Regions from separate parts of the Homo sapiens genome. Here region 2 is linked to region 1. Evidence: fine-mapped expression QTL. A gene starts in region 1. The other region holds a variant in brackets. All regions are shown on one strand. Distances are between the middles of the regions.

Evidence for each region.
Region 2: its variant is fine-mapped to the expression of NEIL3 in monocytes (BLUEPRINT, PIP 0.95).

What each region holds. Positions count from the first base shown.
Region 1 is chr4:177,308,111-177,311,031 of GRCh38, reverse strand. NEIL3 (nei like DNA glycosylase 3) reads right to left here and starts at 1,158. Exons shown (of 10, transcript NM_018248.3): 1 at 923-1,158. The coding sequence starts at 1,078. RefSeq lists an enhancer at 988-1,077 and a silencer at 1,158-1,277.
Region 2 is chr4:177,347,580-177,350,500 of GRCh38, reverse strand. All of the region lies in intron 6 of NEIL3 (nei like DNA glycosylase 3), which reads right to left. The region is part of intron 2 of LOC105377558 (a long non-coding RNA gene); the gene reads left to right. Among named protein-coding and RNA genes, the nearest start is that of NEIL3, 39 kb to the right of the region's middle. The variant T/AT (reference allele first, on the strand shown) is at 1,467.

The DNA.
Region 1 (2,921 bases):
ATAAACAAAAGGGCAATTGGAAGGAGATGTAAAACTTATTTTTTCCCAAGTTTGAAAATATATTTTCTTAGACTTAGAACCTCATTTCTTTCAAGTTGTAAGCATATGCTAATTTCATAGCAGGCAACTTTTTCTTCCAGGACCAAAGGCTATAAGAAGCTTTGCAGAAGAAATTGAAATACAGTGCAATATTGCATGTAGGCATGAAATACAATCATCCATACATCTAGAGGGCTTTTAAAACATGATGCCTTAATCAGAATATTTTTAGTACAAGTTCTGGCCAAATGAATACCACATCGTCTGCAATGAATGCCTGAGTGGCAAGAAGCTGTGCTAGTTTACTTTAAAAAGAAATAAATTCACTTAAGGGAACCAGAACTGGGTTTCATTGCCCCTTAATTAGATGGCAATATGAAGTTGAGTGAGAAGTTAGTGCTAAATTTTCTACGTGTAGTTTTAGAATTATATACTAGTTGTGATATACTTACCAATTGCAGATTAGCCAAGCAAGAAAGTAGAATTTTATGCTAAAAGCTTAAAATGGGACGAAGAAAACATATCAGAGGTAGCAGAGATTTGATAATATCAATAGTAAAAAATGCAGCTGTAGACATGGGAAACCATGTGTGTATCATAAAGAAGTTAAGTAAGGTGACTCGGATAAAACACCTTCACTGGATTCCCCTAGGGCATCTTGCTCCGGCAGCGTGAGCCCAGAACGCTAGCCCTCCTCTCCTGCGCAGGCGCGCTAGGACCGACTTCTCCCTACAGTAAAGTGACGATAAACTCTGTGAAAGGTGGGACCCCAGGAAACCTGGGCCAGAGCAAAGAGATGACACTTTAAATCCTGGAACCCTGATGGGGTCTTTATTCCATTTCCCCCCTGCTGACTGCATGGCCTGTTACAGGAGTAGCTCACCTGCGGGGAGACCACAACCGTGGAGGCTGCGAGCCGCAAGGCGCGGCCCTGCAGACTCCGCAGAGCGCTTCCCCGCACGCCGGTCACCGCCTGGCCCGGGAGCACCCGCGCGCGAATCTTCTCTCCATTCAGAGTACAGCCTGGTCCTTCCACCATCTCTGTGGCCGGCACTGTGGCCCACCGATTGCAGGGCCTGGTGAGAATACCGCTGTGCAACTCAACGCTGCGCGGGCACTGACCGCACGCAGAGGAAATTCAAATCTCGCGCGCGTCTGGCCCCGCCCAGGCCCCGCCCAAACAGCACCCTAGCTGTTGAGGTCGCTCCCTACGGCGCATGCGCTGTGGTTCACCCCCGCCCTAGGTCTTGCTGTGGGTTTATTAAGAAAACGCAAACGCGCGTGGGGCGGGGGGCGTGGAGGACAACTAACTAGGCTGAACTGTAAAAGCAGAAGAAATTGGGACTTGGAAAGCTCTGAATGTATTTTCTTTGCGTTAAAGTTTTGCCCTTGTCTTTGAGCTACTTAGTATACACACATTTTCTGATCTGGTCCTCTTAATCTGTCCTTGTCTGTGACAGGACAGATATGTCACAGACAATCTTGTTTTTGGCTCTGTTTTTGGCATGCTATATTCGGACGTGGGTGGGATAAGAGAAACGAAGAAGAGGGTTTTTGGAACAAACAGCAGAATATATTCTAGTGTCTATATTTAAAAACTCCATTATTAGATAGTTAAGTGAGCCCTACCTAAGTGCATGCATCCATTTTGTAAGGGGACGCCCCAAGATGAAAGCTATATGAAATTGCTTTGTTAAACGTAGAGGTTTATATAAATTTGAGGGTAATGCGTAGCTTTTCAAATTTACCCACAACCCTAACCAAAGATGCATGCATACATATAAATCTATGAAGTTTATGACTCCATATAGTTTTGTAAATTATAAAGTGTATTCTTTTTTGAAAACTGAAATACTACACATTAAAACAGAATGTCAATTTCTAAGTGATTTCATAAGCATAGCACTGTGCTGCCGTTAAACCACAAGAGCATATACACAGGTGGTTGCTGACTTAGGATGCCCCAGCGTAACAGTGTTTTGACTGTATGATGGTGCAAAAGTGACACACAGTAGAAACTGTACTTTGAGTACTCATATAGCCATTCTGTTTTTCATTTTCAGTACAGTAGTCAATAAATTATTCAACACTTTATTATAAAATATGCTTTGTGTTAGGTGATTTTTCCCAACTGTAGGCTAATGTAAGTGTTCTGAACACATTTAAGGAGGGCCTCGTGAAGCTATGATGTTTGGTAGGTTAGATATATTAAAGGCATTTTCGACTTACTGTATTTTCAGTTTACAACGGGTTTATCAGGACATAACCCCATCGTAAGTTGAGGAGCATCTGTATACTAGAGAGTTGAATTTGAATATACTGAAGACTTGATTGAAATTTTGAAAAGTATTAAATCTTTCCTTTGCAGGGAGAGATTAGTGATCAAAAGTTGGCTGGATCAATTTCAGGACTATTTGTACTTTACTCCCTTGTTCAATTCAATAATCTCTGTCCTTTGATGGAGAAAAGTCCTATATACCTTCTCCTCTTTCAGCGTTGTACTAGTTATTTATTGTTACCTCATCAATTATCCCATTTGTTATTTCAAAGTTTCTGTGGGTCAGGAATTTGGCAATAGTCTAGCTAGCCAGAGTCATCCTGGCTCAGCATTTCTCAAGAGGTTACAGTTAAAATATTAGCCAAGGCTAAAGTGCCCCAAAGGCTTTTTGTAGCTAAAAGATCCACTTCCGAGATGAGTCACTTGCATGGCTGTTGGCAGGAGGCCTCAGTTTCTCACCTCTTGTGTCTCTATAGTGCAGCTCGGCTCTTCTAATGACATGGCAGCTGAGAGTGTGATCCAAGAGAGAAGTCAAGGAGAAAGCTGCAATGCCCTTTATTACTTAGTCACCCTTTATTACTTAGTTTACTATGGTAACTTACTT
Region 2 (2,921 bases), 39 kb before region 1:
CCAATTAATAGATTAGCAAGCAAACAATAAAACCCTGATTTTTGGCCACAAATATAAATCATGATTCTCCATCTGAAGTCCTTCATTGACCATGTATTTTTACACAAAATGCCTTTATACGGCTGTGACATAGTCCTACTCTCTAATGCACAGCTAGCTATAGGTCTGGATATAGAGCATGTCACACAGTTAAGCAACCATGGCAGTATCACGGATTCCCTTCATGATCCCAAACATTAATACTGAACAAAGCTCTTGCAGGTAAAGGCTATGTATCTTACATTTCAGAACATGAGTTCTTTGACTTTCAAAGGTAACCTTGTCTCCTGTGACATTTTGTTCCTTACATATAATTACACTAGTTTTAAAATTCAGGAGTGTCTGGTAAAATAATAAATAGAATAAGAAAATCTGAAAGTAAGATACATCTCATTAGGATTCTTTTATCTTTACTTCCCTTGACTTTTAATGCCACTCAGTATTTATTATCCCTATGGAATATCAGATCTTCTACAGAATTTGTTTATTTGACCTAATCTCTGTCCTCTACTAACTTACTTTGAAAGGCAGCATGATGCATTTATCTATAATTAAACAAACACAATTTAAATGACTTTTAGATTTTCCATGTGCTCCAACTTTTCCCTATTTTCATTTTCTTCTGTCCTAAAAGTTTCCCTGATCATAAGGAGAATTTTATTGTTACATATGGAGGCTTTGGAAACATTCTTTCCTTTCTTTACTGCTCTATTTCTTAATCACTCATTAATAAATTCTTCCCAATCTCCACTTGGATGTGTAAGAAGAATCCCAAACTTAATGTTTTGTAGTAGGATGAATAATGGCCTCCCAAAGACATAGGGCACAATTCCAGGAATCTATAAATGTTACTTTATAAAGAAGGAGGGTTTGCAGATGTAATTAAGGATCTTGGCGTAGAGAGATTATTTTGGATTAGCTGATGGTCCCTTAACCCAATCACAAGTGTCTTTATAAGAGAGAGGGAGGGGGAGATTTGATACACACCAAAGAGAAGGCAAGGAGACCACAAAGGCAGAGGTTGCAGTGATGTAGCCACACATGAAAGAACGCTGGCAGCACCGGAAGCGAGAAGAGGAAAGGAATATGATTCCCCCCAGTTCCTCCAGAGGGAGCACAGTCCTACCCACACCTTAATTTTGGTTCAATGAAACTGATGTTGAGCTTTTAGCATCCAGCGTTTGAGTGAATGCATTTCTGTTGCTTTAAGCTACCAAGGTCATGATAATTTATGATGGCAGCCAGCGGAAATGAATACAGACAAAATTCATGACCCACGAGGCCGGGCGCGGTGGCTCACGCCTGTAATCCCAGCACTTTGGGAGGCCGAGACGTGTGGATCACAAGGTCAGGAGATCGAGACCATCCTGGCTAACACGGTGAAACCCCGTCTCTACTAAAAATACAAAAAAAAAAAAAAAAAAAAA[T/AT]TAGCCAGGTGTGGTGACGGGTGCCTGTAGTCCCAGCTACTCGGGAGGCTGAGGCAGGAGAATGGCGTGAACCCGGGAGGCGGAGCTTGAAGTGAGCCCAGATCACGCCACTGCACTCCAGCCTGGGTGACAGAGCGAGACTCCGTGTCAAAAAAAAAAAAAAAAAAAAAAAAAAATTCATGAGCCACCAATCTGCAATTCTACTATTCTATCTCATGTCAGGAAATGGCATCAGTATCGCTCAATTCATCAGGCCCAGACCTAGAAGTCATCCTTAACACTTCCTTTTCTCACATCCCACTTCCAGTCCATCAGCAAATCCCGTGGGATCTGCTGCAGATGCAAATTTACATGAAGCAAAAGAAGTTTAACTTTCCATGGCTTGACGTGTCCTCTGCACACTGGGGTGGGCAGCATGGAGAATGGGAGCCATAACTCGACCACATGCTGGGGACTCAGAGGATTGCAGGCAGCGGTAATCCTGGCGCCTGGGTGCTGCCAGCATCACCTCACATCTGTTCAGTGCCCAGGGAAACTATTGCCCTGGTGACCTCAAGGAGCAGGCGGACTCTGCCCTGAGGCTTGAGGAGAAGGACCTGAACAAAAGATACTGCATCGTTCCGAGCTCACAGGCCACCATGATCCAGGCTGCCAGGCCACTCTACCCCTATACTACCCACCCTAACTCAGAAACAACCTGGTAGAGGGGGGGAACCTGAGGCACCTGAGGAAGATCAAAGGGCTGGGGTTCTCAAAGTCAAGTCCTCAGGCCAGCAGCATGGGCGTCATGTGGGAACGTGTTAGACATGCAGATTCTCAGGCCCCTCCTCAGACCCACTGAATCCCCAGCTCTAGGGGTGGGGCCCGGCAATCTGTGTTTTCACAAGCCCTTCAGAAAATGCTGGTACACACTAAAGTTTGAGAGGCACTGCTCTTAGGGTTTCCTTACAGAGAAGTACTGCTTAAAGAAAAGATAGAGGAAGTTGGAGATGTGTCACTATCAACAGCCAATTGTGAAGCTAAAAGTTTTCTCATCTAGCCGTAATAAAAGATGTAATGATATTGTTGGTGGTCATATGAAAAGGCAATCAAGGAGTTTGCAGCCAAAAACATAAAGGAACACAATTACACAGCTGTGTCAGGCAGTGAACTAATAATATCTCATTTTTCTGATGTTTGTGGTGTTTAAAAAATATAATTTGTTGTGATTTCTTATTCTACATATTCACATTAGGACCTAACGTTGTAGTCATAATTTTTTATTGTTTTTCATAAATAAGGGCCCCCAAATTATATAAATTTCTGGCCTTAACCCTAACTCAACTTCCAAAATTATCCTAAATTCAACCTTTTTTTCCCACCACCTTCTCTCTCTTCCCCGTCACCAGCATTTACCACCTGCACTACTGTTGAGAGCCCCCGATGCTGCCGCTTCACTCTGGTTCCATGACCGTC